Homo sapiens: one gene and its partners. The protein of the gene in region 3 interacts with the protein of the main gene of each other region in a pairwise test. Each region holds a gene or a part of one and is shown on either strand. Other genes may lie near its edges. The genes, in order: MGAT5B, ASPG, DMRT3 and NBPF19.

Region 1 (7,720 bases), on a different chromosome or scaffold from region 3:
GGGACCGGGAAATTTCATACTAGCGTTAGATGACACTAACTCAGGTCTCTCCAGCCTCTCAGGCCCTCCCCACGCACTCACACACTCAATCGGTTAATCTGGGCAGCCCTGGTGAGCCATCGCTCATAACTTGGGCTGGAGTAGTCCTTCTCCAAAGGAGTGGGAGAAAACAGGATATAGATAGCTCCCTCTCTCTTTCAGCTTCCCAGAGGCGGGGGCAACGGTTTACTTTTTCAGATCACTCTCGTTTCAGAGATGTCTGCCCAAGCCCATCATCCAAATTCAATACCGAGCTTGCAACCAGTGCTTGTAGCACAGAGTAGATGAAGAGATTTCCATCATTTCAGCTAAAAAAACTGGAGGACATCAGATGACCTGCCTGGCCACTGCTTTCTACAACTCCACAGGACACCACTGGTATTGTGGCCGCCTAAAGGGTGTCTGTCGTGGAGTCGTGCAGCGCACAGCCTGCGTGGCCTCACTGGGCAGCCCTGGTGGGCTGTCGCTCATAGCTCGGGCTGGAGTAGTCCCTTCCCCAAAGGACTGAGATGAAAAAAGGAATGTTTCATCCCATAAGGTGTCTCACAGCTGGGACACCATAGCGGTGCCGTGGCCAGAGCACTCAGGCCTGACTGACCACAGAGCCTGGTCAGCAGCTCGTTCCTGCAGACGCAGCACCCCAGTGGTGCTGAGCCCACAGCGTGGCTTTTGGGGTGACGCTGTGTTCCCTGGAGCGCCTTAGGCCTGGCACCCTGCCTGCTGCACTACTGGTCCCACTCTCCAAGCCCACCCCAAGCTTCCTCTGCCCCTGCCTATCGCCTGAGCCCCCTCCCAGAAACCTCACGGTCACAGCTCCCTACCCACACCCCACGCTCCCAGTCCCATTGAGCAGGCTGAAAAACAGATGATGGGCCAAAAACTATGAGGGCTGGCCTAGAGCTGCAGAGGCCCCTGAAAGTCAACAAAGTGGAGGCTGCAGCAGCAGCATGGTGGCATGGGCCCAGTCAAGGGGGATGGGGCAGAAGCCTGGACTCCAGGCCCGCTCTGCTGCGGACCAGACAGGTGAGCAGGTCACCGTCCTTCTCTTGGCCTCAATTTACCCTCATGTAAAATGAGGGGGCTGGGCTCATTGAGCTCTGAGTCTCTATCGCCCTGACTTCTGTTTCTGTGTCTTCCCCTAATTGCCTCCGGAGATTAGAGAAATGGGAAAAGAAAGAAACGCTCCTATAAAAACTGGCAGCAGGCCAGGTGCAGTGGCTCATGCCCATAATCTCAGCACTTGGGGAGGCCAAGGTGGATGGATTGGTTGAGCTCGGGAGTTCAAGACCAGCCTGGGCAACATGGCAAAACCCCTTTTCAATAAAAAATACAAAAATTAGCTGGGCATGGTGGCATGTGCCTGTAATCCCAGCTACTTTCAGGGCTGAGGTGGGAGGATTGCTGGAGCCCATGAGATTGAGGCTGCAGTGAGCCACGATTGCACCACTGCACTCCAGCCTGGGCAACAGAGCGAGACCCTCTCTCAAACAAACAAACAAAAACCCTGAGGACATACAGAGGCATGGGTCATTGCAGCCTGGGTTTCACGATGACCATGCCTGCGGAACCAGATGCCCCTTCTGTAGTTCTTCAAGCCCCACCCCATCAGACTGGACCAAGTCCCCCCGTGCCAGGGGCTCAGGAGCTGCTCCCATCTTCTGCAGATGGCATGGAACTCCAGAAACCCCTGAGACCTGGGGAGACAGCCCCTACCCCTTCCCAATGAGCCCTCGGGGTACCAGGCACATTTTGTGCTCTGGAAATGCCCAAAGACTAGGCAGGGGGTGGGTACCCAGGAGGGAAGCAGGTCAGGCCGACTCTCCCCCAGTGACCCACTCCCCTAAAAGCCACCACTGGCCCCGGGACTGTCAGCAGAGCAAGCTGACATCGCTTCCCCAGAGTCACTTCACCACTCTTGGCATCAGCTAAATTGAAATATATCTAATGTGAGGCCCCAGTGATACAACTCAGAACAGGCACACGTTCCCTCCATATTTCCATATAAATAAGGAAAGCTGGGACGCTGGGAGATACAAATAGATCCTCTCATTTACAGACGGGATGTGTTTATTACCCACCGAGGCCCCGTCTCCTCCCCAGACGCTCTTCGTCTCTCTCTGTCTCTCTCATCCTCCTTCGTCCCCCTTTTCTTGTCCCCATCCCCACCCTTTACCATTGGAAATTGAATGAGCCCCCATCTCTCCAGAAAGCAGAGACCTCCCTGGCACTGAGAAGGGAACTGTGACTGGGTGTTCGTGCAGCTGGAGAAATGCGCACATTTATCTCTCTGTACTCGCTCACCGCAGAAACCAGCTGAGGCCACGGGAGCTCTGGGCTCCGGGCAGCAGAGAAGACAAGGACAGGCCGTGGGAGGCCACACCAGGCTCTTCCTCAGACCTCCGGGCCCCGGTCCCCCATCCATCAAGCCTGAGAGAAGAGCCCCAGGGCCCCTTAGTACCAAGGGCCAGAGCCAGAGCCAGAGCCATCCACAGAGCCAGGTAGCCTTCCCCAGGTTCAATCCCTGGTGGAGGCCTGGGAGGTCTGGCAGGGCCCAGTAGACACATGCAGCTGTGCCATGGACCTTCAGCCTACAGACCCCTCCCAAAAGATAGCCTCCTACCACTACTTTTTTTTTTTTTTTTTTTTTTAAGCCGAGACAGAGTCTTGCTCTGTCACCCAGGCTGGAGTGCAGTGGCGCAATCTCAGTTCACTGCAACCTCCTCCTCCCTGGTTCAAGCAATTCTCCTGCCTCAGCCTCCCGAGGAGCTGAGATGACAGCACGTGCCACCACACCCTGCTAATTTTTGTATTTTTAGTAGAGATGGGGTTTCACCACGCTGGCCAGGCTGGTCTCGAACTCCTGACCTCAGGTGATCCACCTGCCTCAGCCTCCCAAAGTGTTGGGATTACAGGCGTGAGCCACCACACCCAGCCTCCTACCACTGCTTCTTCAAGACAAGTCAGAGGGCAGGAAACAGCCTCACAGCACTATCTGCAGCCACATGGGGAAGGAGGCCTAGGCGAGAAGGGCTGGAAGGGCAGGAAACAGGAGGAGGACCTGGGGTGGGAAGTGGGGCAGAGCTGCCTGGGAGGGGGCAATGCCGGAAAGCCCTCCCCAGAGCCCAGGCCCAGCCCAAATGCAGCAAGAGGGAAAGAAGTCAGATCTCCTCCGGGTCATGATTCCCCATGCAGCCTCCTCTCTTGAATCTTTAAGATGAGTGTGCAGAATACAGAATGAGATGTCAGTCACATTTCATCCCCAAAGTACGCAGTTTATCATGAAGTATAAACAGGCACAGAGGAGAATTTGGAGGCCCCACACATAGACCACAGTCCACAAGAGGCTGAATGACGCCCTCCTCTTCTTTTCGAGAAAAGCCTTCTCCTCCCTCTCCCTTCGCAGCCACAGTCCATGTGGGACCCCACTTCTGTCACCGGTTTGACAGGGGAGGAGAGATTGTTTTTCCCATTTGTACACAGATTGTTTTGTTGACCAATGCAATTTTTTTTTTTTTTTTCTAAATAGCAGGGCCTTAGAGGGTTTCCTTCTCCTGATTCTGCTCTGGGGTTGTCTAGACTCCGCAGATTTCTTTTGGGTAACAAAACGTGCATTATCCAACAATCCAACCTTGGCCCAGGACTTCCAAGATCCCTCCCCAGGCCTGATTCAGCCAAGCAATTTGCCAAGCACCTCCCCGTGAAGCCCTAATCCTTCCCTCAGGCATCTCCTAAGTGGAAATGCTGGTACCTCCTAGGTTTTCTGCAGGGCTGCCCCAGGCACTGCGTGGGGATGTAGTTTGAGGGGCTTCTCTTGCAGGATCAGGATGTTAAACCCACATTGCACACTGCTTTCCCGGCCTGAGTCCCTGCCTTGGGTCTGCCCAAGCAGATTAGCTTGATCCAAGGGTATGAAAGAAATCATGGAGGACAATGCGAGTCGGGATCTAAAGTGAATCAGGGTCAGCTCTCCTGGGTTCTCAGCGGCCCTTTTCTTGTCTGTCTCCTCCTTCTCCCGGACTTCAGTTCTGTATTCCAGGCACTCAGCTTCTGAGGCCTGGGAAATGTGAAAAGACTGGCTTGGATAAACTTGGTCTGAGAACTAATGTTACAACACGTAGAATCTCCACTCCTAGGTATACCCAACAGAAATGCCTACGTATGTTTACCAAAAGACGTGCACTGAAATATTCATAGCAGCACTGTTCGCAAAAGCCCAAAACTGGAAACGACCAAATGCCCACCAATGGTCGGATGGATAAAAATATGGTGGTGTACTCACACAATGGAAGGCTACACAGCAAAAAAAAAAAAAAAAAAAAAAAAAGTGCAAGTGACTACAACCGCATACAAGATAGTGAGTCTCACACATGTACTACTGAGAGAAAAGACACACACAAAAGACTACTCCTCTATTAGTTCATTCTCAACGTTGCTACTAAAGACATACCTGAGACTGGGTAATTTATAGATGAAAAAGGTTGAATTGACTCAGAGTCCAGCATGGCTGGGGAGGCCTCAGGAAACTTACAATCATGGTGGAAGGGGAAGCAAACATGTCCTTCTTCACATGGCAGCAGGAAGGGGAAGTACCGAGCAAAAGGGAAAAAGCCCCTTATAAAACCATCAGATCTTGTGGGAACTCACTGACCATCACAAGAACAGCACCAAGGTAAACCACCCCCATGAATCAATTACCTCCCACAGGGTCTATCCCACAAGAGGTGGAGATTATGGGAACTACGATTCAAGATGAGATTTGGGTGGGGATACAGCCAAACCATATCAACTCCTGAAACGATTCCATGCTCACAAAGTCCAAAAAACAGGCAGAACTCTTCTATGTGATCAGAAGTCAAGTCGTGACTATCCTTGGGTGAGTAATGACTGTGAAGTGGCATGGGGACACTTGGGGACTGATCACGTTCTGGTCCTTGCTCTGGGTTGTTAGTTGCATGGATTGTTCATTTGTGTATATGATACCCCATTAAAAAGTTTAAGACCACGTACACGCACACACACATGCACACACATGCACATGTACACACGAATGCACACACACCTCTAGTCCAATTGTATGACCTTGGGCAAGTGCTCTCCTATGTGGTTCCATCCATCTTTAGACCCAGACCTGCAGCTGGGGTTGGACCCCCACCCCCATACCCAGGCAAAACTGCATAGCACCGAGCACAGCAGGGCTCCTACACCCCTTGCACTCTGGGGCACTGAGTCTGATCCTGCCCAGATGGGGCAAGAGCCATGGGGTAGGTGAGTTACCTTGACTCTCTAACCCCCTTAGGGAGATAGGCATAAAAACCAGAGCCCGGCCAAAAACCCCTCCTCTCCCCCATCCCTAATTCCCACCTCTTAGACCCCTGACCTTTCTGGAGGTTCAACTTCCTCAAGGCCTCTGTAGCAGCCCACCCAGATAGGCACACCTCCTTTCCAGGGGTGGCAGCCAGGTAGTTTATGAATCTCTGTCTACACCCCATCTTCCCATGCACCACTTTTCCCACCAGCCCTTCCCCAAGCCACCCTTCCGGTTCACCTTCACGACTGCTCCCTCCCATCCCCACCCACCTCAATCCTCAGCCTCTCCCACACAGACACTCCAGCACCTCCTTGGTCCTCTTTCATAAACACGCTTTGCTGCAGTGCCCCCATTTCAGACTCGACACATCCATTAAGTATTGATGGAGTGCTCGCCGTTTGACAGATGCTGCTGAGGCCCCTTCCCTTGCTTTATCTTTGCACAGCCTCGCAACGAGCCTGGGAAGTGGGTATTACCATCCCCATTTACCAGAGGAAAATTTGGAGGCTCAGAGATTGAGGAATCTCTGCAAGTCAGAGACGGGATAAATTAACTTACACTCAGGCTTGAATGACTAATAAGCGTGAGATTCCTTCTGAGGGCTTTTGCAAGTTTAAAGAAGTGCATGTGAAACCAGAGGAATGAATCTAATGATGAGATGACAGATGGCATAATAAGAGCCCCTCAGCACCCACCCAGATGACAACCTATTTAACTTGGGATGTCTACAATATTCATCACTCAGAACAGGGGAGCCAGAAAGCCAAGCCCTGCAAGTTCAAGAAGGTGGACTTCAAGGAGAGACTTCCCCAGAGGGGCAGGGGAATCTCACAGAGCCAACCCTCGAACAGTTCCAGAAACCTACTTGCCTCAGTTTCCCCACTACCCCATGTCCCTCCTTTTGACCAGTGACCAAAAGAACCCCCATGATACAGTGAGCAGGGCTCAGTTCTGACCCCCACCCCTCCTTAGGTGAGATGAGGTGGGGCTGGGCCCAGCTTCAGGAGGAGGGCTCCCAGCTGGTCACTCTTGTGCCATGTGGCACCAACCATGCTGGGTAATGTCCACGTGTGAGCCCCTTCAATCCAACCTCTGCAGAAGGTCACTGCTGTCCTTCTCTGTAGGGAAGCCAGGTGACTCAGCCAAAGGCACACAGCTGGTAGGTGATGACAAGGATGCAAGCCCAGACCCACCAGACGCCCAAAGCCCATGCTCTGATCTCCATTCCACTGCCTTGCAAATATCGTGTGGGCAAGGAGTGATGGGGCCTGGGAGGGAGCTGTGTCCCAAGAGCTCAGAGATAAGACATTTAAGCCCATGGCCAGGCCCGTTCCCACATGGCCACAGCCTGGGCCAAAGGCAAGGAAATGTGTGCCTCAAGGAGACAAGTGTCATATCCAGAGACCTCTCACCCCTGACACCCAACTAAAGAAGCAACACTGGCAGCCTCTTCTGAGGCCTGGAAGACCCTGGCTTAAAGGCCCTAGCCTGGCCTGAGAATCCAGGCCAGAGGAAACCTGATGACCACAGCCAGACCAGAGCCAAAGTGCATGGAGGGTCATACGGCCCAAGCCCAGGCCCCCTCCACTCACATCCACCTACAGGGCGGCCAGAAAGCCAGGTACAGGGCTAGGCTCAGAGGCACTTCCTCTTTGACCCACAAACGCCCTCACTCATCTCACACTCCCCTTGCCCCACCAAGGTACCTTCTGTGCGGATGGTGAATGGCGAGTCCCCCAGGCGCCGGGCCGAGAACTGGCCTCCCAGAGACGTCATCAGGAAGCAGAGAGTGAAGAAGCCGATGCCCAGGACAAAAAGCCTGCGGAGAGGAAGGAGGCGGGTCAGGAGGGCAGGAAGGGCCATCGTGCCCTGACGCTCCACCACGTACCGGCTGCACAAATGTTTTACGAATGAGTGCATGAGTGAAGGAAGCAAGGGAGAATGAAAGGATGGGGGCTGAGCTCCAGACCCAGGAGGGCCCCCCCACTATAGGATAAAGAGAGCTCAACTACAAGATGCTGGCCTCGAGCCACACGAGAAACCACAAGGCAGAATGACGCACACTTAGGCATGAGGCAGGCGGGCTCTAGCCTCCAGGCAGAGCTGGTTCATTAACAGCTGCAGTCCTGAAAGTGCAGTCCCCAGACGAGCAGTCAGCATCACCTGAGACTCCTTAGAAATGCCAATGCCGGGCCCAGACCCCAAATTACTGAATCAGATACTCTGGGGTGGAGCAAGCAAGCTGTTTTAGCAAAGTCTCCTGAAGATTCCACTGCATGCTAAAGTTTGAGAACCAGTGATGGACACAGCAGGGCCTGAGGCCAGCCAGACCCCATCAATCACTCAGGCCAGCCTTGGTGCAGTGTGCAGAGG
Region 2 (7,720 bases), on a different chromosome or scaffold from region 3:
ACAGTCAGGGGTTGCCCTTGGCCTGAGCCTCGGCCGTGTGTGCTTCATCCCTCGGGCCAGAGCGGGCTGGGTCCCCTCCCAAGGCCAGCCCCACTCCCTGGCCCTACCAGCTCAGGGTCTCCAGGGGCCCCAAAAGCCTCCGTCCAGCCCCAGAGGCTGGCAACCCAAGGGTCTGGGGCCAGCTGTGTCTGAACCCCACCCTCGAGGAAGAGTGGAGAGCAGGAGAGGATTTCCTGGCGACAGTTAGGGGAGCCTCAGGTCTCCATGCAGTCTGAGAAGGCACAAGGACAGGCGGAGCCTGGGCTGGGAGTCCAGTGAGGGCTGTGGGGAGCCTGGGCCCAGAGCTGCCCTTCCCCACTATAGGGAGCCACATCCCTCCCCTTCCCAAACAGGACACACCCTGGACCGGCCCCCAGGCTCTTCCGGCATCGCCCCAGACATGCCCCTGGGAGCCAACTGACATGCTTGTGCACACCGAGGGTTGCCCACAGCCCGAGAGCGCCCGCACCTCCTTCCTGACATCCAGGCTCAGCCCTGGCTGGCCCAGCACATACGATAGCTTGGCCAGGGCGGCCTCCGATGTCATGTCGAAGCCTGAGATGACGCCGGCTCCCGCCATGGCCTGTGAGGAGGGGGCGTGTGGGCAGGAAGGGCGACTCACCACGGCCCCCAGCCCATGAGGGGTGGGTCAGAGCCCACCTCTGCCAGGCCCTCAGGCTGTCCCCTTCCCCGCTAGGCCCTGATCTCCCGGCACTACCATGCCAGCTGCATAGTCTGTGGTCACAGCCCCCTGGAGGCAGTGGGTACAGTTGACGATGACCAGGCCGCGCTCGGTGGCCACCCGCAGCTCCTGCAGCAGGTCGGGCTTGGTGGGTCCGTTCCCTGAACCGAAGGTCTCCATGACCACGCCCTTCAGGGGAGGCTGCAAGAAGGCCCGAACCTGTGGGGCGGTGGGGTGGGGGCTGGATGGTGAGGGTCTCTGCCCTCAGCACCACTGAGACTCGCCCCATGCCCTCCCAAGGAGAGGGACCCCAAGCCAGGGGCAGCTGGTGCCTGCTCTGCTCCCGGGACAGTGGGGCTCCTGGCAGACGTGCATGGCTGCTGGCACCTGGAGGGGGCTGCTCCCCCCACATTCTCCCAAAGGGTCGCCCTGTCTGTAGGGACGAAGGCTTTGTGTGGCAGAACGCCGTGGAAACACTTCAGAGAGGTGGGAGAGGAGCCAAGAAGGCCATCAGAGGCCCCAGAGCAAACACCCTTGTCCAGCACAGCAGGGGCGGCTCCCAGCCAGCTGGAATCTGCGGGAGGACGCTGCCTCTAGAAAAGCATGGAGGACCCCGTTCTGGCTGTGAGCCGCGCCCCAACCCTGCCCACTCCCCGAGAGGCTGGAAAGCACCACGACGGAGGACAGGGGACAGGGCCTGGGGCTGGTGGGGCCACACTGCAGACATCTCAGGTCCACGCGGGGTCTGCACTGGCTGGTGAGGGCCCCAGGGAGCCTGAGGGCCGTGGGAGCTGCAGAGGGCTGGGGCTCAGGGCTGCAGGGGCAGGATGGCCGGGGCGGTCCCTACCAGGGCGGCAGGGATCCCAGGGTAGAGGCGCAGCAGGCCCACGTCCTGCTCCATGCTGCTGTGCACCACCAGCCCAGCCTTCCCGTCCACCTTCCGCACCAGCTCCCTGTTGACTGAGGACAGGGAAGGGCCTGTGTGGTGCCTTCAGGCCTCCTGCCAGCCGAGACCCCAGCCCAGTGCCTGGCCCTCTGCACAGGCCGCCTCCTCCCTTGTTTTCAGAGCCCTGAGCCTTCGCGGCTCAGCCCCCTCGCCCTGCCTCCTCTCCCGCAGGCAAATCCTCCCGGGCTTCCGCGCAGTCCGGCCTGTGCCAGGCTCCGCAGCGTGCACGGGGCTGTGGGAGGAGGCACTCGTTGGCCAGCGAGAGACCGATGGCCGAGCAATGGGCAACACAGTCTCAAGGGTGAAGCCCAGGGAAACTCCGCTGGCCAGGCGAGGGGCAGGAGGGTCCTGCAGAGATGGAGGCCCGGCTGTGTCTTGCAGGCCGCATGGGGGCGTCAGGCGAGCGCAGAGGCGAGGAGGGCAGGCATGCCCAGCTGGGGAGCCACCAGCAGTCACTGCGCTGGGTTACAGGCATGGGGCAGCATCGTCGAACCAGCCAGCCTCCTCTGCCCCTTGCCAGGCACCCACTGTGCCCACTGCCCACCGGGTCAGTGGTTGAATGAGCGAACAAATGGACTTTCGGACCCCTCACCTCTGGGGAGAGAAGGCCTCCATCCAGTTCACCCCAAAATCCTAATGTGTGCCCATCACCCCCTCCCCACACCCAGGGTGGGTGATGGTGGAGGTGCAGGCCCCAGGTGAAGTGGGGAGGGATGGCTATTTGGGGTCAGTGCCCCTTGAACCCGTCCATGCAGAGGGGCTCCCCAGAGGACATGCTTGTCCTCGAGCTGAAGGCCGCCACTCTGGCAGCAATTGAGCCCCCAGGGTTCTGCCGACTTTCCCGCTCCATGTGGGTGGGGGTGGGAGGCTGATGCCACAGGCCCGGCCCCCAAACCCTCAGAGGCCAGCGCCAAGGCTGAGGTCCATTCCCTCTGCCCCTCTCCACACTCATGGCAGCCTCCAGCAGAGCAGGGCTGGACACTGGGGACTCCCACCACACTGTGAGGTGTCAGAGCTGCCCAGGGCAGTAAACACCCTGGAGGCTGGAGAGCCCAGCCCAGGAAAACCGAGGCCCAGGGGTGGGGAAGGGCCTGGGCGCCTGGAGAGCCCGGCACGGTGCTGGGACAGGAACCTGGGCAGGAGGACCCCCGCACAGGGCTCTTCCTCCTGCCCACAGGGAGATGTCACCCACATGTCTCCGGCCGCTTCCGCTAGAGCAGCTTGCATGCGATAAAAAGGACTTTCCTGGCATGGTGGAGCTGAAGGGGGGAGATGTGGGGTGCTGGGGATGAGAGAGGGGGGAGCGGAGCCCCCAGCAGTGAGTCTTCCACCCCCACCAGAGCCCACAGCATCAGTCAGCCCCACATGATGGCAGCGTGAGATGCCCTTTAACTGAGGGCGTGTGTCTCAGCCGGACAAGCAGATAAGGCATCAGCACAGGAAAGGAGGGGGCACCGCTGCCACTGGCAAAGAGTTATGGCTGAGAGGGGGCTACACAGAGACAAAGAGGGCCCACACCCACCCCGCACTGACCTCCCGCCTCCTGAGAGTCTGTGGATGCCACCCTTGGGATCCCAGTCCTTCCTGCCCAGGCCTGCTAGAGGCCAGGGGAATCGTGACCCCACACCCGGGGGCAGAGAGGAGCGCTGGTGGCTCCATGGCCAGGTGAGGCCTGCAGGCTCAGCCCCTTACCCCCAAGAGGGGCTATGGCCCTGTTCTACAGATACGGGAGCTCAGCACAGGAGCCGAAGGGTGTAGTCTGCGGCCTCAAAGCTGGATGCGGCACAGCTGGGGTGGCTGGGTCACGTCTGGGAGGGAGGTGGCTTCTCCCAGTGCACAGAGGAGGGCTCTGGGGCTCTGCTTTGGGGTGACCCAGCGTAAGGACCCATGGCTGGTGAGTGACAGGCCTGGCCTGACCCCACAGCCATATCCCCTTCTCCACCCTCCTCTGCTCCAAGGGCCCCAGCAGAGTGGGCCGGGGTCAGGGCTCAGCACAGAAGGGTAAGGGTGCAGGATTTGCCTGGGGGTGACAGTGTGGTCTCCTGAGACACATGGAAAGGACAGGGCCAGCAGGGCCTCCTCCAGCCTCCCACGCATCCCCCCACCCCTTGGCGCCGAGCCGACTGTGGACAGGAGCACCAAGCCCGCCCATGACTCCCGGACCAGCCCAGCCCCTCACTTCCCAGACAGTGGGTAAAAAGCCCAGGACAAGCCCTCGACAGGGTGCTGGCAGCTGGCACCCGGGCCCAGGCCGGCATTGCTACCCCCAGCTGGCTCAGAGAGGCTGAGGGTGCACACTGCCAACCTGTGCCCCTCCCCAGGGGCCCCAGCAGCCACGCCCTGGGCAAGGCCTGAGGTTTCTCAACACTGGGTGCCAGAACCGGCCCGGCAGCCCGGCATCAGTTTCCCACACCCACACGCACGTGGGAAACACTCAGGGGTGGGGGGCTGGGGCCAGGGCAGCCTCCCACCCAGACCAGCCTTAGTGCTGCGCCCAGGAGCTGCCCCACGGCCCTGGGCCTGAGGCCGGTGTGTCTTGAGCCTCGTGGCCTGCCCGGGCTTAGCACCCGGTGCTGGCGGAGTCCCTGGAATCCAGAGCACGGTCCTCTGTGCACTGTTGGGGCGGGGTCCACCCACCAGCAGAAGCTCCACTCCTGAGCCCCAGATAAGGTGTGAATCAGGCCCCATGGGGGAGCCGGGCCTGCAGGGCACCACCCACACCTCTTGCTGCTCCTTCTCCCTGGGCTGGAGGGGCCGAGTGCCAGCATCCAGCATGGGCAAGCAAGCCAGTACCCTACCAGCACCAGCTCACAAGCCACCTCCTCCAAGAAGCCTTGAGGGCTGCCCTGGCCCTCGGTGAGCAAGTGGGCCCCTGCCCAAGCCCCTGAGACCCGGTGTGCTGCACACACAGTAGACACACTGATGTGTTCTGGGCCTCACACTCCCTAGAAGGTGCTCCAGGGAGCAGCAGGAAGAAGGGACAGGGTGTGAGCCCAGGACAGGAGGGAACAGCAGGAAGAAGGGACGGGGTGTGAGCCCAGGACAGGAGACAGCGCACAGGCTTGAGTCGGTGCCTCCCTGTGGGAGCCTGCCTCTCTCTGCCTCCGTTTCTCACCTGTAGAACCAGGCAGTTTCCTCTGTCCTGTCCTGCTGAGGGGCCCTGGGGCAACAAGCAAGTCAGCCACCGAGCCCGGACTCCCACACACAGGCCTTGTCTTGAGATCCAAAGACGCTGCCTCCACCCGCTTCTGCTGACGGCCCCACAGCCAGACATGCCCAGAGCCCCTCCTGTCCCCCGACTTCTGGTAGATGCTCCAGGAAGGCCCCTGCCCTGCCAGACCCTTCCCAGGGCCCCCTCATGCCAGGCCCTGAAGCTCCCCAGGGTCCTTGCCTGTGTCTGGGGATTCTTCCAGGAAGCTGTGCCCCAGCAGCCCATAGCCCAACCCTTTCTCCAGGAGGGTCTGCTCCTCCTTAAAATGGGGGAGTGGGGAGCCTCTGCCGCACCGGGAGATTCCCTAGGAAGGGCCTCCCCAGGCGTCCAGTGACCTTGTGGGCTTGACCCACCAGCCCGCCATGGCCCAGGCCTGGACAGAAGCCCAGTGTGGGTGAGGGGGCGCCTCCACCCCACCCGCCCAGACAGGAACAGCTGCTTTGGTCCTGGGCAGGCAGCCCCACCCAGCCCCGGGTGAGGTGTCAAATGCCCCCAAAGGAAGGCCAGTGCTGCCAAGCCCTGGAGCCTCCCCGGGGCTGGACCCCACCTCAGTCAGTCAGGATGAGACACAGGGCAGGTTTGGGGCTGCCTTGAAACAGCAGGGGGCCAGGGCAGGCAGGATGCATCTCCCAGGAGGGAGGGGATGCTCCCGCTGCCTCAGGGAGGGGTGCTGGCGTGGGGTCAGGACTGGCCATGCTGGCCGTGGACCTGGAACAGGCAGGGGCCGGGTAGAGTCCAGGAAGCAGGGGCTCCCTCAGCAGGAGCACACCCCAGACGGAGCGACGGTAGGCCAGGGAGTGACTTCCGGGCAGGCCACTGGAGTGGCCCTGCGTCTCAGGTGAGGCCTGGCAGGGCACCAGTCTCTGAGAACAAGCTCCAAGGCTGCTCCTACAGCCAGGGCCAGGGGGCGGGCTTGGCCCCCCCAGGGGGAAGCCTCAGGACACAGGATCGCTCGAGTCAGCCCCACAAGGATGGCTGGGCTGCCCGCCGGAACCAGAGGACAGAAAGACTCCCTGAAACTCCTGGGGACGAGGCTACGGCACACAGAGGTGTGGCAGAGCCAGGTGGTCACTGGGGACCTCCTAGGCCTGGGGCGAGTGGTTGGGCAGGACACATGAGGGCCAGATGCCCCAAACCTCTCTTCCAGGCCTCCCGCCTCTGAGCCTGCAGGGACCTGAGGAGGCCCCCACCTCTGTGGCCACGCAGCAGCCCTGTCCACGCAGCCCTGGCTTCTCCACAGCCCAGGGCAGAACCAAGCCAGGGCAAGTCAGAACCAAGCATGGTGCTCTCAAACTCTGCCGAGTCCCAGCCACGAGCTCCCTGCAGCAGCCCCTCGCCCAGCACCAGCACTGGGCAGGCACCTGGCCCTGCTCCTGCGGGGCTTACTTGTGATGTCAGCACCCACTGTGGCCAGAGGCAGCAGGTTCGGGGAGCAGAAAGCTGCGAACCTCCGAGCGTCTACCTTGGTTGCCCGGTTGCCCCGAAACAGCTGATTCTGGAAGAAAAGGCAGACCTGCGGGAACGGAGCGACAGAGTTCAGAGCAGCGGCCACCCTGTCCCCGACCCATCTGCCCTCCAGCTTCCTCCCTGCCATCAATGAGGTGCCCAGACCCAGGGGGAGGTGGGACTGTAACCCCACCCACCGCAGGCAGAGACCTTCCTGGGAGCAGGTACTGCCCCTCTCGGGCCCTTTCCTGCCCTGCCACCTACCCGTGGGCTAACCGGAGCCTGCAGGGGCCTGGGGACCCCAGGGCCTGGGGCGTGCAAGTGGCTGGGTGGCAGGAGGGTACCGTACTTCCTTCCCTTCCCACCTGCCCACTGCCCCCAACCCTGCTTCTTACAGAGCCCTGGGAACTCATCCCAAAGGTGCAGCGAGCACAGCTGCTGGAGGCCCCTGCCCACGGTGAATGGGAGTCCCTGAGGCCCCTGCTCAGGAGCCCGTGTGGGGGCTCTAGTCAAGCTGCTCAAGAGCCTTGGGTAAAGCCACTGCCCCAGGGTGGGGGAGATCTTTGCACACTCCTTCCTGGGACGCCACAGGAAACAGGGAAAGACATGGGGGAGGGAAAGTGACACCCTTCAGAGCCCTGCTGGCTGCAACCTGTTTTTATAGAAACTTCCATACCTATCTCTAATGTAAAACCTCCATACGTATCTCTAACGTAAAACCTCCATACGCATCTCTAACGCAGAACCTCCATACGTATCTCTAACGCAGAACCTCCATACGTATCTCTAACGGAGAACCTCCATACGCATCTCTAACGCAGAACCTCCATACGCATCTCTAACGCAAAACCTCCATACGCATCTCTAACGCAAAACCTCCATACGCATCTCTAACGCAGAACCTCCATACGCATCTCTAACGCAGAACCTCCATACGCATCTCTAACGCAGAACCTCCATACGCATCTCTAACACAGAACCTCCATACGCATCTCTAACGCAGAACCTCCATACGCATCTCTAACGCAGAACCTCCATACGTATCTCTAACGTAGAACCTCCATATGCATCTCTAACGCAGAACCTCCATACGTATCTCTAACGTAGAACTTCCATACGTACCTCTAATGTAAATATCCACAACATAAGATCTAGAAGACAGTGCACCCAGCTATTGGCAGTGGCGTCTGGGGAGGGGCTGGGGGGACTTTGTTTCCTGGCTGCTGTCTGGGCTCCTGCCCCCACCCCACCTGCCCCGCCTCCACGTGCACCAGGCAGGTACCTCTGGGATCACATACTGGCCAGCCATGAGCAGTGCCCCCAGCAGGTTCTCACGGCCGTCGCTCCACAGGGCATGGATGGGCACCTGGGGGAGAGGCCACGGAGTAGCTGAGGC
Region 3 (7,720 bases):
TGCAGATCTCACCACTGCACTCCAGCTGCGGCGACAGAATTAGACTGTCTAAATAAAAAAAAAAAAATGTGAAAAATCTTTCTGACTTAGATGTCATAGGTTATATCCATTCTATCCAATTATATCTACGAAAACAAAATAGTTCTTACATACAGAATGAAAACACAGAAAAACTCGAGCAGAGAGGAATATTTCCTAGCTCAAAAGTCACTGGACTCCCCCATCCCTTTTGAAATCATGTCACGCATTTTGAAACATAGATTGTCATATCCTCATCTGTTCACTTGAGCTGTGGGGAACACACCTGTAAATAACAGGTCCTTGATGGGTAGTTTTCAAAGCACATAAATCTTACAACAATGGCAAGGGAGGGAGCCCAGGCAGGATGAGACTTTTACAGGAGACCATTGCCTAATCAGAATTCTAATCGTAGACAAACGCTTCACATTTTCTCTTACCTTCATCTCACACTAGAAGTGATGAATTATTTTAAAAAAATGAATAGTTGAAAATCTAAAGAACACCAGGGAATGATCTCGATCTAAAAACTTTCCTTTTCTTCCTGGGGTGGATTGCCGGGTTGGGGAGGGTTGTGAAAAGTTAAAAAAAAAAAAAAAACTAGCCATGCTTTACTTTTTAAAAAATCATTAACAACACTGAATTAATAACGTATGAAGGAATCAGAGTGGTTCCTTGACACTATATTTTGGGGGAATATTGCTATAGACAGGACTGGGCTGAAGGAAGTATGGTTTGCAACTGTGGACCTCACATATTTTGTAAAAAATTAGTTTTGATCTCTTTCTTGACTCAGAAGGGAATACCTTCCAAGAAGCAGAGGGGAAATTACCTACAAATCTACATGTTTATTTGGTACCTTCCAAAATGCACCTGTCTAACTCATCCATCTATTTAACAAATGCCCCTAAATGCCTTACTATGCTCTCATGTACTGTGCTGGGTAAGATCATACAGAGATGATCAAAGCATTGCCTCTTGACCACTGAGAGGCATACAGTTTACTAACTAATCTTTTGCAAAATTCCAAGTAAGCTGCAGTTGGTTATATTTCACAGTGAAATACAGCAAATAATTCCAAGGATAGCAGCTGGGCAGACCATGGTGTCTTCACAGGAGGAAATATTGTTTTAAATGCTTACATATAAAGATTATGGGTGCTAGAGATATATACTGAACTAAACAAAGTAATAATCAGTGGGAAAAACGTGGAACACTAATCCCAGCTCTGTAAAATTTATGTCTGCCTAGTTGTTGTAATCAAGAGATTGGAGATTTTGTAAAGAATTGATGTGCCGACTCTTAAGTTTTTCATTATTATTATTGTTACTTGGTACTTGATTGTGCCTTTTATAGCTGTTTATGCAATAAAATGCAAAAAAACCCCATACCTAGTTATTTTAGTTTCCCTTCTGAGAACAGTAGTATGCATTGCTCAGGCAAGAGGATGACTCACTAAGGCGATGTGGGACGTAACTGACACAATCACAAGGCGGTGGACCTGTGAGGACCAGCTGTCCTATCACTGCATCCTCCACCTCTGCCATGAGCACCCGTGCACAAGCCATCAGAGCCACACAGGACTAGACAAGGAGGTCCAAGGACCTGAGCAGCTAATGGCTAAGGGGCTGCAACAGGTTTAAAGGCGGGAAGAAAGGAAAAAAGCAAGAGGCGAGGAAGAAAGGAAGAGAAAGAAAGAGGAGGCGGGCAGGCAGGGCAGGCAGGCCCATGGTTTTTTGCTGGGCTTAGTCCTCCTTCCCGTCAGGAAGAAGTGCAACATTTCCAGAAAAGGGCTCCGAGTCCTCCAGGGACTTTGATTTATGAAGATTTATTCCTTTTCTCTCTGTAAAGCTGTTAGCAGAAAGTGCTGACTGGCTGCAGCAAAGAATTTCTCATCAATGCTCTTTGATTGTATTTTGCAAACAAAATGCCTGTTGCTTGGTAACATTTCACTTGAGCCTGACCTTCTCCGAAAGTTATTGCTATCAGATTCGATTCACACTGTCCTCCTGTGATTACTGTAATCTTTTAAACCCGGGAGTTCATCCATCAGGGAAAAAGAAAAGTTGGTTGTGTAAGTCGAGAGCACGGCTATCCTCCAGATTTATAACACCAAGGAGTGATTTGGAGGTGGAGAGAGGTTCTTTCCCAGATGGCAGTAGAACTCTGGTTCCTAGACGTGGAACACACTCTCGTTTTTCCTGCCAAACCGTCCCAGATCCACAGGATGGACCCCAGCACCTCCCTGACGCCAGTCCCAGGCAGCTCGGGCTCTGCAGAGAAAGAACTAGGAGATGAGCACAGGCGACCCCACCGCCAAGGGGTGCCCTGCGTGGGTACTGGGGCTGGGTGAGGAAGGCCTAGGCCTATGGTTGCCAGATAAAATAACAGGATGTCCAGTTAAGTGGGACCATCAAATAAACAAAGAAGGCTTTCTAGAGAAAGTATGTCCCATGCAATATTGGCATCCTATTTTTTGTTTGCATGATTTTTGCAGAAGGTGTCAACTCACCTCGGGACTCCTGCCTTGGGAAGGAGAGGGTAGTGAAGCTCAGGAAGAGCAGAGAGGGAGTGGTGGCCCAAGAGCTGGGCAAGGGAAAGGCAAGGGATGTGGCTGTCTCTGGGCGGTTCCTGAGCTGCCTAGTGAGCTGCTTCCTGACAGTGACCAAGGAAAGAGCCGTCCCCAGCAGGCGGCGAGAAGCTGGGCTCAGCTGCAGCTCCGACCCCCTGGTGCAAGGAGACGGCAGTCCATTGCGGCCGCAAGGAGCCGCTGCCCCCTATCTTTGCCCCTACTTTGAACCCGCTGTGGCCAGGGTCCCAGTCCTGGGCCAGCTGCCGCAACCCTCCGCAACACACACACAGCAACTGCACTGCGTGCAAACCGGCCAGGCCAAGAGCTGGGAAGACCGGTCCCCAGCAGCATCCCAGCCCCAAGAGCCAGCCCTGGGGTGGGGTTTGGAAGAGACCTTAGTGCCTGTATGCGTATTCCTTTTTATTTGGTTGGGTTTTGTTTTTTAAAATGCAACTGAGTCAAGCCCCTCACCCTCAAATCAAGCTGTCTTAAAATGAGACCCTGTTTTTCAATTCACAGGTACACTTCATAAATGGTTTTTAAGTATTTCCCGCTTTTCTTTTCTTCCTAGCCAACAGTCAGAGGGTTTCTCATCCTGGCCTGGACGAGTGTTCCGTAACACCCATTACACTTGCAGGTGCTTCTCTTTGGGGGAAAAAAAAATTAAAAAAAAAGGAAGTGGACTTTGCGGGACCCAGTCAAGCCGGAGCAGAAAAGCCCAGAGGCAAGCATAAAGATGCTAGGAGGCGCAGGGCAAGAGGAAAAAATAAAATAAAGGCAGTTTTCCAAAATCTCCTAACTTCTCCCCCTATAGTTATCTTGTTTGCTCCGCCCCCACCCCCTAAGAAATAAACAGGAAAGAAGATCCTACTTTCCCATTTGATCCTTCTCTCTTATTCCTAACCATGTTTTCGATTTCTTTTTCCTTTTAAAAGCATTTAAAAGAATGTGTGTACATATTCATTTTGATGGCAGATGGAGACCTAGGAAGAGTCTACAGCCACAGATCTTTCTTCTCATCGCACCACAGTCTAAGGTGTCCGAGGACACTCCCCTGGAGGAAAAGTTGGGGGTAGGGAAGGGAGCCACAACACAAGAATGTAACTTTAGCTTTTCACCTTGGCAGTGACCCTTAACTTCCCTCAGCTCTTGAGCCCACGTCCTGAAAGGCTGGCTAGGCTGATTAAAACTGCTGATTCAGATACACTAACAGTTGGAAGATCTTCATGCCTCCTGTATTTTCATGGGGAGAAGGAGTATGAGAAGAACATAGAGGGAATTTAGGAGAAGAATAAATGAATTAAATAGTGTATGTATATATACATATATATATACACACACATATATAGCTTAAATTAGAATTTAAATTTAAGCTATATATATAGCTTTTAATAGATATATATAGCTTAATATATCTATACATAGCTTAAATCAAAATGTTCAGCTCAATCAAAATCTAATAATTAATTCCAGGTCCATCGTAGATGGTAATCAAAGAGAAGGAGAAATCTACATTCAAAAAGAAAAAAGAATACTTCATAACTAGAAGTAAAAACCACTAGAATATGAAAATTCTCCTTAAAAACACCACACATTGAAAGGGATATTCAACATACTACACCATTAGATAAAATAACCCCATTCCTTTAAAGAATCTAAAGCAGAATTTGAGAAAAAATTCTTCCAGTTACAAAACTGAGTTTTGATGTGAATATGTCACTCCCTCAACGGGGTGGTTTTCCTCCAGTGATTCACAGCAAACATACTCTTCCTTAAGGCATGTGCTTTTCTCAAAGATTTCTGGAGAGGAAAGACTCCATGTGCTTCTGTTTACAAGAAAAAAAAATCTCTCTTCACAGCTTATGTATTAAAGAGGTCCTTTGCCCCGCAAAAAGACTAACCACATTTCAAAGTCAAAGTTCACAAAGTAATAGATCTACATTGCCAGCAGATATTGAAAGATTTCTGATGGTCTGTATACTTAATGTACATGTGGAACTACCATTCCAATAGAGTTCTGCTTACTCTCTGCACTTAGTTTTGCTTACTCTCTGCACTTATTCAGGAGTAGTTCTGATATGCTTCTAAATACATATGGAATGTTATACACAAATACATTATTAGAACAACTGCAAAAAGGGTATAATACCTATAGCAACAGGCAGTCTCAGTGAGCAGTTTTCTTCAGCTTAAACCCCAAATAGACTTTATTTCTACAAGCACTGTGTAGAATGGATCCACTTGTATGCCTGTCTTCCTAAACAATCATCTATTATTTTCCTACCTTTCTCCCCACTCCCCATCAGAGTGGTGATTTGCTTTTTTTTAAAAAAATGGGAATTATGGGGTCACAGCAAGTGAAAGAAGAAAACAAAAGTTGTGTACATCAATGTACAAGGTATGGGGGGGTGGGGGTGACCAGCTGGAAACTGAGCCCTTGGTCCCTGATGCCTCGGTCCCCCAAAGTCCTCACTTGGACCTCGCCTTGTGATAAATCCTATTCTCCTTTGCAATTACTTGTTTTCAATTCGGAAGGCTCAGGCTATCCCTGAGTGCTAAGTAGGAGTAAAACAGCACAGCTCTGCTTTGTCCAGTTGAGATCCGTTTCCTTTTTCTATTCTCCCAAAGCACGTATCCTGCTGCCGCTGCCTACTCTGCCTTCCTGCCTGCCCTCACTCCTCCTCCTCCTGGGGTTGTGTTTTTAGTTTTGTGACTCTTTAGAAATCATGAACTTTAGCTATCCCAAAGAATACTCTGAAGAACACAGGATGTGAAAGGCATCTCCTTGGATAAAAACCACAGAACCCAATGCCCGATCACAGGAGTGCTGCTGAGTTAACCTCTGATGTTAACTCAGGCCTCTGCCCTAGTCCTGGGGGAAACGGAACCAGAGAAGCTGGAAATGGAAAAAAATTAAGAAAATATATTGGTACAAATCCAATTCTAGAGCTGAGACCAAACTCTTCCTTGTTATTTGTTCAAACCTATGGGAGAAAAATAATAAAACCTTTTTCTCCTCCCTCCTCTTCGTCTGTGACAAATCCATAAATATAAAAAGATGAGACAGACAAAAGAGAGACAACTGGCGATCATTTCTGAGAAACGTTTATATGCTAACTTGGATTAAATATCCACAAAATCCAAGTTCGGCAAACTCTCTTCAGGCTTTAAAATTCCCAGCTCTACTGTCACACAGGCTGTTCTCAGAGCTTCAGGCCTGGAAAGCATGGCGGAAAGACAGGGCAGCAGAACTCCACCTGCCAGTCACCCGTTGACTCACCATGAAACAGGTGAGTCCGCCTCACTTCCTCAGCTCCACAGGATCCAGACAAAGCAGTCCTGGGCTCCTGAAAGCCTTTCTCCGAAGCTAGGGGTACCGTCTTTAGGGAGTTGGCAGGTCAGTGTAGGTACCAGTTTTGCCACAGTTCTACTTACAGGAGGGCTCTGGACCTTCCCACTCCTAATTCCAGCATGCCCCCTTCCGGGAGAAGGTGGGCTGTGTTCCTTTGCACATTTGCCCCAGTTAAGGAGAAACACCAAACACATATCCACTGAATTCCAAGAGCCATCAAAAGAGCTCTTGAGCTGGGCAGAACCGCAAGCTAGAAATTCCCCAGGAAGAGAGAGACTAAGAGACTCAACTCAGGCCTGCCAAGCTCAGGAGGCCTGGATGGAAACGGATGGGTGGTGGGGGATCAGATTTTTTGTATTCCTTTAAACCACGAAGACAGCTGAGGGCAGCCTGGGGAACAGTGTTAAAGGATCTAGGAGGTTCTGCAAAGGAGTGAATTCTGGGCGCATCAGATTCTTTTCCCGCTATCAGCTCACAAGCCTTTCCGGACCCTTTTACTATCATTGCTAAATGGAACTTATTTCACCAGTTACAAGAGTCTGGAGGCCACGGAGCAAAGCTAGAAAGGCCAGGGTTCTGAGAGTTGGATACTTGTCCTCACTCAAATTTTCCTGGGCCCTGGGCAGGGCCGGGCCGGCCGAGAAGCACAGCCAGCTCGACTCAGCCGAGTGTTGGCCTTGGCTCCTTCCCTACACCTACCTACCCATTCCAACCCCCAAATGGCAAGGACCTCTAAAGCCTGCAGCCAGGAAAATCCGACCCCACCGTAGTGAGTGTGCGCACGTGGGTTTTAATTTTGTCCTGTCTCAACTCCGTTGTCTCCCTGCTCAATCTGACACGTTCCGAACCCTTCAACCTGGGAAGGCACCTGGCGATACTGACGCACAGTCCCGTCGTTTGGCTGCCCGGAGGCGCCTTCCCTGCGGGCGCGAGTGCCACTCGCGCTGGGTCCAGACTCAGCCGGCTTCTCCCGGGAGAGGAAGCCCCGGCCTGGCGGAGAGTAGGAAGGAAAGCCCCGACAGGCCCACGTCCCAAAACTTTGCCTCCAGTCCTCCCAAGTGGAGCTGCAGCTGGCACTCCGAAGTTGCCCCCGCGCCCGGCCAAACTCCCGCACCTCAGACGCTCTTACCTGGCTTGGCGAGCTGCGCCTGCAGAGCCCCGGGCTGCGGCTCGGCAGTCCAACGCAGCGCGGCGGCCGCGGCCAACTCGGCAGCAGGGCGCGGCGGCTGCGGCTGCGACGGCTGAGAGGCTGGCGGCGGCTGCGGGGCGGCGACGGCGTCCCCCGGCGGCGGGGGCCCTGGCAGAGCGCGCAGCGAGTCGGGGATGAGGCTCTCCAAGCTCTCGTTGGCCTGCTGCCGGCGCAGCGCCACCTGCGCAGCCATGACCCGCTGCCGCTCGATGATGAGGATGCACTTCTCGCAGGTGCAGTCCTTGAAGCGGCAGTAACGCTTGTGGCCCTTGAGCCAGGACAGGACGCCATGGTTGCGGCAGCGCGCGCACTTGGGCGTGCGCTGCAGGGGCGCCCGTGGCGGCTGCGACACCGGGCCGCCCATGTACAGGTAGGGGGAGCCGTAGCCGTTCATGCCCCGGGCTCCCGAATGAGTTGGCAGCCTGGCTGCGGGAGAGGGCCAGGGAGCGCTGGACGGCGGGGCTGCGAGGCCCGCTCAGGGGCGGCCTCCGGGCGACGCGGCCCTTGGTCCCGCAGCCCCGGTGGTCGTGTGTGCTCCGGGGCGGCCGGAGGTGCCGCAGTCGTCTCTCCAGCTCCCTTCGCGCTCACA
Region 4 (8,404 bases), on a different chromosome or scaffold from region 3:
CTCCAACAAGCGCCCTTCCATCACAGCCTCCTTCCTGTCCTTTAAAACTAGATAGATGCTGCCTCTTGCTCCAAAGACCACCTTCCATCAAGGAAGGAGGGACACTTGCAATACTGTGACCTCCAAACCCATGGGTTTCCCATCTCTGTTCTTACCCAGGAAGTCCTGATCATGTCATGGCCACATAGGTGTAGTAGAAAAAAACCCCACTGATATAACTGTCATTGTGAAAGTATGGAGGTCTGGAGCCTCTCATAAGCCTGGGGTTTTGGGTCATCAGGGCCTATGGCCACCTTACCTGGGCTGAGCTTTTGGACAAGGTGCTGTGCCAGTCTACACCCCTCAGCCAGCTGTTCTTGGAGGTCCTGCCCCTGGGACTTGTCCGGCTCATCCGGAGTGAGGAGGGCCTGGAGATGCTCATTCAATGAGCGGGAGGCATCTCTCCCTTCCCGTAACTTCTCCCTTAACTGGGTCAGCTCTCGTTCCTGAGAGTGAAACAGGACTTTATATTGCCTAAGGTGAGACGGTAGAGAAAATTTAAGAGTAGAAAGGGTTGAGTGATCCGTTCAAATATTGCAACAGAGACTTCTGAGACAATGTCCTCAAGGAGACCTCCAAGCAGAAGGTCAGCACATGTTGAAAGGAATGACTGTGGCCAAGAGGAAGAATAGAAAATGGTCTACAGGCTTTCCCTCTATCAGAGAGGGCTCCTGCAAGATCCTCGATGATGTTCCATTCATCTTTCTCTTCTGTAAACAAAAGTAGGTGTCTTCCTAATTCCGTTTCAAAAAGACATCCTTTCAGTTCCTCACTCTGGCCATGGACATTTCCATGTGAAAATACACATAGTGCATCTTGCGGCCACTAAATACAAAGCCATGTACAGAAATGAGGCCAGGTGCAGATGGGGCGAATTGAAAAGATGAAAGAAGAAAAGAAGGACAGGGTCAAGAAGGCAACATTGATTGAGTGAAAGAATGAGAAGACGCAGTCAGTCAGGAGGTGATTCTCACTAAGGGTAAGTGGGGTGGTGATAGCACACCATTTTGATTATACTGAATGCTGCTGGGTGGTTCCCACTCCTTTGGTGAATTTTGTGTTATGTAAATTTCACCTCAACAATTACTTGTTTGAAAAAGAGAAAACAAGGCTCTAAGAAACAACTGCAACACAGAACTTATTATTATCCTTGTTCACTGATAAATATTTGTGTGTCATGAGCCTGTCATGGCAATTTCTGCCCTTCCCCTGGCCCAGCTTCGTTCTTATTTCTCCCCGCCGAGCTGCTGTACTTCAGAGATCTACACACCTACCCGCCTGCCCTCCCCCCACGGGGTCCCCTCACCTGAGCTCCTCAGCTTGCTTCAGCTGCTCTGCAAGCTTCTCCTCCTTGAACTGTCGCTCATTCCTCAGCATAAATTTTATGAGGTCTTTACACTCTTCATACTCTGAGAAAAGACAGACACGCCTGCCTCAGTGGAAGGCTGGACATGCTGCTGTGGTCACTGCCTACAGGGCAGGAGCCAGGTCCATCCCAAGGACAAAACTCTCCCCAGTACCAGGGTCTAGACAGGGATTTCCACATCTTTATTCTTCAGTCTCCTGACTTTCTGGCATCTGATCCTCCAAAATTTAAAGACGAAGAAAGAGAAACTCAAGGGCGCATCAAGGAAGTTGACAAGATGATTCAACCACAACGAAGTGGAGTCAGAACTCACAGCCCCTGAGGTCTGACTCTGAATGCGGGGCCACTTTCCCAAGTCTTGCAGCCTCTCCTCTAAAACACTGCACTGGGGCATGAAGTAGTGATTTCTTGTACAGTCGGGAAGGCCCCTAGGACTATGGGACTGATGGTTTCCCTTTTACTGGGTATTTCAAGGACAAATATGTCAAGGACTTTAAAAATATTTCATTTTTAAATCAATATTCAGATATGGTTTTAAGAATCATATCTGAAGCATAAAGTGTGAGATATAAGACAATAAGGCCATGAAGGAAATATGCCCAAATACTTTATTAGTATGAGAGGCAGCATTAAGATTTAGATTAGTTGTGTTAATTTAGAAACAGCATTAGTTTGTGTTAATTTAGAAACATCAGAATGAAGAACTAATAGATAGTGTTTCCACTGTGCCAATTAATGTTCAAGGAGATTGACAGGAAATACCTCATGTAATTCATTGCAGCAATTTACAGAGGTAGGTATTATTGTAGTACCCTCTGAACAGATGAGGAAACTGAGGGACAGACAAGACAAGCAACTTGGATGGAGCCCAGGAGACAGGCTGAGGGTCCCTGCTTTGCACACTGCACTGCTGCTTCCACACATTCTCCGGTGTGATCTTTCCTCTTTAGGAACAAGAGCCTGTGCACCAGGAAGCAGGACTTCACTCTCACCAAGGTACTCTCTGCTTTTTATTTTTATTTTTGATTTATTTATCTTTTTGTTTGTTTGTTTTTTGACGAGTCTTGCCCCGTCACCCATGCTGGAGTGCAATAGTGCAATCTTGGCTCACTGCAACATCTGCCTGCTGGGTTCAAAGGATTCTTCTGCCTCAGCCTCCCGATTAGTGGTGATTACAGTTGCCCGCCACGATGCCCATCTACTTTTTGTATTTTTAGTGGAGATGGGGTTTCTCCATGTTGCCCAGGCTAGTCTCAAACTGCTGACCTCGTGCTCTGCCCGCCTCAGCCTCCCAAAGTGCTGAGATTATAGGAGTGAGCCACGTTGCACGGCCCCTACTCCCTGCTCTTGATGCTGTCACTTATAGATAGCACAGGTTCTATTAGGAGCAGACTCCCCTTGAAGCCCCTCAGAGCAGGTACTGGCTACTATCACCAAGTTCCCCTCAGAGTCACTAGAACAGAGCTTTGCCTGTTGGGCCTCAACAGAAACTTGAACTGAATAAAAGTTCACTAGTCCTAGACATTTAGAACAACAGACTAGATGTTATTTGTCTGCAGGATCTTATATGGTACAGAGAGGATTCTTAAAAACATGATTGAGCCCCTTGGAGAAAACAGGTCATTCTGTGCCTGTGTTAGAAATCAATAACTGTGAGTTTAACTCTAGTTCCACCCCCATCTGATTGCAAACATGGAAAGTTGCTAAATACTTTGGCACCTCTGTCTTCCAACTTTAACAAAATGTTAAAATACCCATTTCTGTTTTCCTAGAAGTACAGGAAGGATGAAATTATTTTTGATGGAGAGAGCATTTAGTGTCTCAGAGAGAAGACAGGATATCATTCATCACTTTCATGATGGTGAGCCTATAGATCTTACTGTATTTCTTCTGTCGGTTGGCCAGGAAGCCGGCCAGTTGAGTTAGAAAACATTTCTCTTTGAGGTTTCTGAACTGCTGTTTCTTCTCTGCCAGCTGGGGGCGCAATGTCTCGTTGATTTCTAGAATGTTCATCTCTGCCTTCTCACTGGACCAAGGGCCGGCTGATACCACCATGCTGACGTTTGTGGCAGAAGAGGTGGAGTCAGGGACTGGGGAGAAGAAACCCAAACATATGATGGGTTAAAAACTGGTGAAATCAAATCGGTTTAATCAGGACTGAGGGATGTCAGTAACTGAAATTCTTAACTTACTGTTGTGAAAAATGTGATCACTCCCCACAGCACTTTAGGATCCTTCACCACAAAAACAAGGTTCGAGGTGCCTCAACTCAGAGCTGAAAGCACTGCCAGTAGCTCAGACTCTGATAAGAGTGAGGCAGAATGTGGCCAGCGTGCCAGGTAACCGTCTGCAGTTGCAATAACAGAATTAGAAGGTGGGGGTGTCATGGAATCTTAGGAGCTCTGCATTCCAATTGCCCAGGCTTTGCTGAAACACAGGCACCCTACTTTCACCTGAGGGTCACCACCAATGGGGATCATTCCTTCAGCATTCACTCTCAGTATTCGTGTACCCTTGTGACAATGCCACAGACCCATGTCTTTCCCAATACATCTAAGCATATTCCTCACTGTTTATCTCTTGTCTGTACAACATCATCAAGGCAGAAACAGTTTCCCAACAGGTTATATTTTCTTAATGGTAGTCATGAAGTCACCCCACCTGCTCTCAGTTAAAACAGAGCTTAAGGCTTTTCCACAGGTGTAAGATATCAAACTTTTAGCCTGCCCTGATATCCTCTGGGTCTTCTGCAGTTTTTTCTGTATCCACTAGAAAGTGAATGAATAATTCATTTTTTTAAAATATTTTCTTTCCTGTCTCAGTATTCTTGCTGCTGCATCCCATTGTTAGATTGATTTCCTCTTTCTTACTGGGGCACCTTCTTGGGTTTTCATTACATTCTAGACCAGTTTGACATCCCTACGTCCAAAGCTCTTCCTCTATGTGGGTTGATTTGTTTTTTAATGTCACTGAGCACTACATTTTATACTTGTCACTTATAGATGTCATTCTAGTGCCACAAGACCTCTTTTCAAGGTATCAAGTGATCAAAGTCATTTATATAGAGGTCTCCTGAAAACATGTGTGACCATCTATCTTGGGAAGTTTTGTAAACCTGATGCTATTTTGTTGTTTCCATTTTGTTTTCCCATATACTGAAAAGAACAGGGCCACGAGCAGTTCTTATGGAATATGGTTTGATATATATTTTGTTGAGATGACCTAACACCATTGATTTTGGGTTGCATTCCACTAACAGAACATGGCAAGATCAAGGTTATGGTCAGGGTTGGTTGGCGATCCTCAGTGTTGCTGTGCAGTAGAAGGTGAGTTTGAGGTGAGAGGAACAAGTAGGAAAGAGTGATCCCCTGAACCACCTCTTCGCTTTCTCAGCTTTCATCCCCACCTAGGTTTTGTGAGCCTGGAACTTGAGAGACTGTTCTGTAGCCCAGGTCTCCTAAGATTGGCTGCTGGACTTGCCTGAGTTGAGGGTGCAGTGGGTTGACCCTGGGCTGCCCAGCATTCATGTGGAAGTGAAGGAAGGAGGACTGGTTAATCCCATTTGAAAGCATCCCTCTCTGCAGCCCGCACCATCTTCCAGTGACACTGTAAGGATACTGCTTTGAGATGTATCAAAGGCTTTAAGTCAATGTATTTTCTAGGGTCTGGGAGACCTGACATTCTGTGTCAGAATGAAAATCTGTCAAGTTTCTAAATGAAAAAACTGCAGGTTCACAAAGTGTCATGGGTTACTTGAGGTCACAAAGGGATGAGTTTTCAGCACTGCCAATAAAAGCAATCACAATAATTATTCAGTAATTATTCATAGGATCCATACAATCCAGTAAATATTCACATATTTAGTAATTATTCATTGACCAATTCGTACAAGGCATTTTGCTCAAAACTGTGTTTATATTTGGACATTGTATCTTCATCATAATCCTTAAGGTAATGCTATTATCTATAAGTAACAGATAAGAAACCTGAAGATGAGGGACAGCTAATCACGTATTTGGCCATATTTCCATTTTTTGGTTTTTGTGATGCTGGAAGAATGACCAGAATGGGTCACGGGAAGAGTATTCATTCCTGTATTATTTTCCAGGACAGAGGTGTGCCCTTCTAGAGTACTGGGACCAAAATTCAGAAGTGTCTGAAACCTTGCTTTAACAGTATGGGAAATAACCTCTATCACCTGGAATTTCCCTGGAACTTTGGAATATACAAGAGAAGTATGAGACGTGGGTCTTCCCTTGGCTGTGTTTAATTCACTCTTCTATGGAATACCAATGATTCTCACTAAGACTTTTGCCTTTTTATAACCACAATGTATGTCTTATGGAGAAGATTGTACACTTTGCTCTATTTAGAAAGAATAAATATGAGCAATAGTTTTAGGTTTTATGCCCTGGACTTCATATTTTTCTGATTTCTGTTTTGAGATTAAATTCTCATGTAAATAGAAAAATACTTATTATTTCTCATCAGGCCAAGTTTGTTATCAGCTTGAGTTTTTGAAGATGAAGCACAAACTTTTGATTTTATCTTTGTCCTCATCAGCGCCACTCATTGTCTCTCAGTATGACCTGGACTTGCCCCTGCATTTACCCTCATCCTGCTGAGCCATCTCCATGCACTGCCCAATTCCATCAGTGATTCGGGGTCCTCCCAAGGCTCCCTGAAATGTGCACAGGGATCAGGACGTCAGACACATTCCAGACACAAAGGCAACCCACACTGTAGAGTGAGCAGCTGTGTTCCCACTTCCCTAATGTTCCAGTGATGTCCTCAAACTGAAGGGAACACTTTCCCTTTTTAAGGGTCTGTTCTTCATGTCTCAATGCCTCTGATCTAGTGAACACAACTGTCCTGAAACTGAAAGAACCTGCTAAATTTCGAGTTTCTGGTTAGGTGGCTAGAATAGGTTTATAAGACTTCCTTACTTACCTATGACTGCTGAAGTTTGAATTCTTAGCAGTATGATTCCTTTTCTTGTAAGCTGAGCAGCTTAGGAAAGATTGGCCATGTTGCTGTGCAAAAAGAGGTAAACTTAATTTATACTCAAAGCATGCTTGAATTTGGAACTAGGGCTTCCACTCTTCCAAAGCTGGACTGTCACTACCTCAGGCATGTGTCCCAAAGGGCTCATGTCTCTGTTGTACTCAAAGTTCAAATGGAGCCCAGCAAGCCAGATCTCCTTTACTTCTAGGTTCCCTCAACAGTTTCTCCTCTGCTTTAGAGACTGCCTTGAAAATATTCTTGTCCTGCTGTTGTGTTTTGGCTTTGGAATGATGTGATGCAGCTCAATGGGTCCTACCCCCAAGTTGATCAGAGTAAGAAACAGCTGGGAAAGTCAGTGCAAATTCAAGTTCATCGTCCTCCTTACAGGGATTCTGATTCAGAGGGCTCAGGTGGGGCCTGGAATGTGTTTGTTAACATGACTCAGATGTGCAGTCAGTTTGGGGACCCGCTGATACCATCGACCTTATAGTTTATGGGATGATTCTGTTTTGCTGATAAAGAAACTGAGGCATAGACAGTCTGTAACTTGCCCAAGTTCCCCTTGCTGTAAGTCCTGGAGCCAGATCTCAGGTGGAGCAGCCTCTTCCCCATCCCCTTCCCACATTTTCCAATTCAGCTGGGTCAATTCTTTCCAAGTACGTGTTTCTCTCCCCTATACCTCATTTCTGAAAAAAGGAGAACTGGAATTTAACTTCTTTCATCTAATACATTTCCTCACAACATGCTGCCAGCATCATATTCTGGCCTCTTACTATTAAAGTGAGATGCCTTTTTTTTTTTTTTTTTTTTTTTTTGAGACAGGGTCTTGTTCTGTCACCCAGGCTGGAGTGCAGTGGTGATTATAGATCACTGCAACCTTGAACTCCTAGGCTCAAGTGATCCTCTTGCCTCAGCTTTCCAAGTAGTTGGAACTCTAGGCACACATCACCATTTCTGGCTAATTTTTTATTTTTCATGGAGACAAGGTCTTGCTATGTTGCTCAGGCTGGTTTTGAACTTCTGGCCTCAAGCGATCCTCCCACCTAGGCCTCCAAAAGTGCTGGGATTACAGGAGTAAACCACTGAGCCTGGCCCTGAAATGCTTTTTTTTTTTTTTTTTTTTTTTTAATGAAAATACAAGGCATGGAGATGTGGAAAGACACCTTGCTTTATTACTGTTATTATTAGTTCCATAGTATAATTCATATATCACAAAAATCACCATTTTTAAGCATATATTTCAGTGTCTTTTACCATATTCCAAAAGTTCTGCAACCATCACCACTACCTAATTCCAGAATATTTTCATAATGCCAAAAAGCATGCCTGTACCTATGGGCAGTCACTCTCCAATTCCCCACTTCTTGCAGTCTCTGACAACCACTAATCTACTTTCTCTATATATAGATGTACTTGTTCTGGGCACTTAATTCAACAAATGGTCCTGGGACAACTAAATATCCACATGTAAAAGAATCAAGTTAGACTCCCTCCTTGCACATAAAAATTAACTCAAAATGGATCAGAGACCTAAAGGTAGGTGGTAAAATTATAAATCACTTAGAAGTAGTAAATCTTTGTAATGTGGGATAAGCAAAGTTTTCACAAATATGACTGAAAGCACAAGCAACAAAAGAAAAAATAAATTGTATTCCATCAAGTTAAAAACATTTGGGCTGAAAAGTATATCATCAAGAATGTGAAAAGACAGTACATAGAATGACAGAAAATATCTGCAAGTCATATTATCTGATAAGAGACTTGTATTTAGGATATATTTTTTTAAAACTATTACAGTTCAATATTAAAAAGATAAACCAATTATAAAGTAGGTAAAGGATCTGAACAGACATTCTCCAAAGAAGATACATAATGACTAATAAGTATATGAAAAGATGTTGAAAATCATCAACCATCAGGGAAATGTAAATCAAAACCACAATGAGATAAACACTTCACATTACAGATGAATATAATAAAAAAGACAGACAATAA

Evidence for each region.
Region 1: the proteins of DMRT3 (region 3) and MGAT5B interact in a two-hybrid assay, tested with the Homo sapiens proteins (2 studies listed by BioGRID).
Region 2: the proteins of DMRT3 (region 3) and ASPG interact in binary tests that used the Homo sapiens proteins (3 or more experiments, as listed by UniProt).
Region 4: the proteins of DMRT3 (region 3) and NBPF19 interact in a two-hybrid assay, tested with the Homo sapiens proteins (one large-scale study listed by BioGRID).

What each region holds. Positions count from the first base shown.
Region 1 is NC_000017.11:76,872,297-76,880,016, reverse strand, and holds part of MGAT5B (alpha-1,6-mannosylglycoprotein 6-beta-N-acetylglucosaminyltransferase B), read right to left. Parts: intron 7,371-7,720; exon of another isoform or gene 7,268-7,370; coding exon of another isoform or gene 7,167-7,267; coding exon 7,054-7,166; intron 1-7,053. UniProt on the Homo sapiens protein: Glycosyltransferase that acts on alpha-linked mannose of N-glycans and O-mannosyl glycans.
Region 2 is NC_000014.9:104,097,524-104,105,243, reverse strand, and holds part of ASPG (60 kDa lysophospholipase), read right to left. Parts: intron 7,691-7,720; coding exon 7,607-7,690; intron 6,392-7,606; coding exon 6,265-6,391; intron 1,682-6,264; coding exon 1,569-1,681; intron 941-1,568; coding exon 758-940; intron 623-757; coding exon 509-622; intron 1-508. UniProt on the Homo sapiens protein: Exhibits lysophospholipase, transacylase, PAF acetylhydrolase and asparaginase activities.
Region 3 is NC_000009.12:976,807-984,526, reverse strand, and holds part of DMRT3 (doublesex- and mab-3-related transcription factor 3), read right to left. Parts: 5' UTR 7,526-7,720; coding exon 7,072-7,525; intron 1-7,071. UniProt on the Homo sapiens protein: Probable transcription factor that plays a role in configuring the spinal circuits controlling stride in vertebrates.
Region 4 is NC_000001.11:149,470,989-149,479,392, reverse strand, and holds the start of NBPF19 (NBPF family member NBPF19), read right to left. Parts: upstream 4,349-8,404; 5' UTR 3,598-4,348; intron 3,496-3,597; 5' UTR 3,461-3,495; coding exon 3,286-3,460; intron 1,449-3,285; coding exon 1,346-1,448; intron 514-1,345; coding exon 299-513; intron 1-298.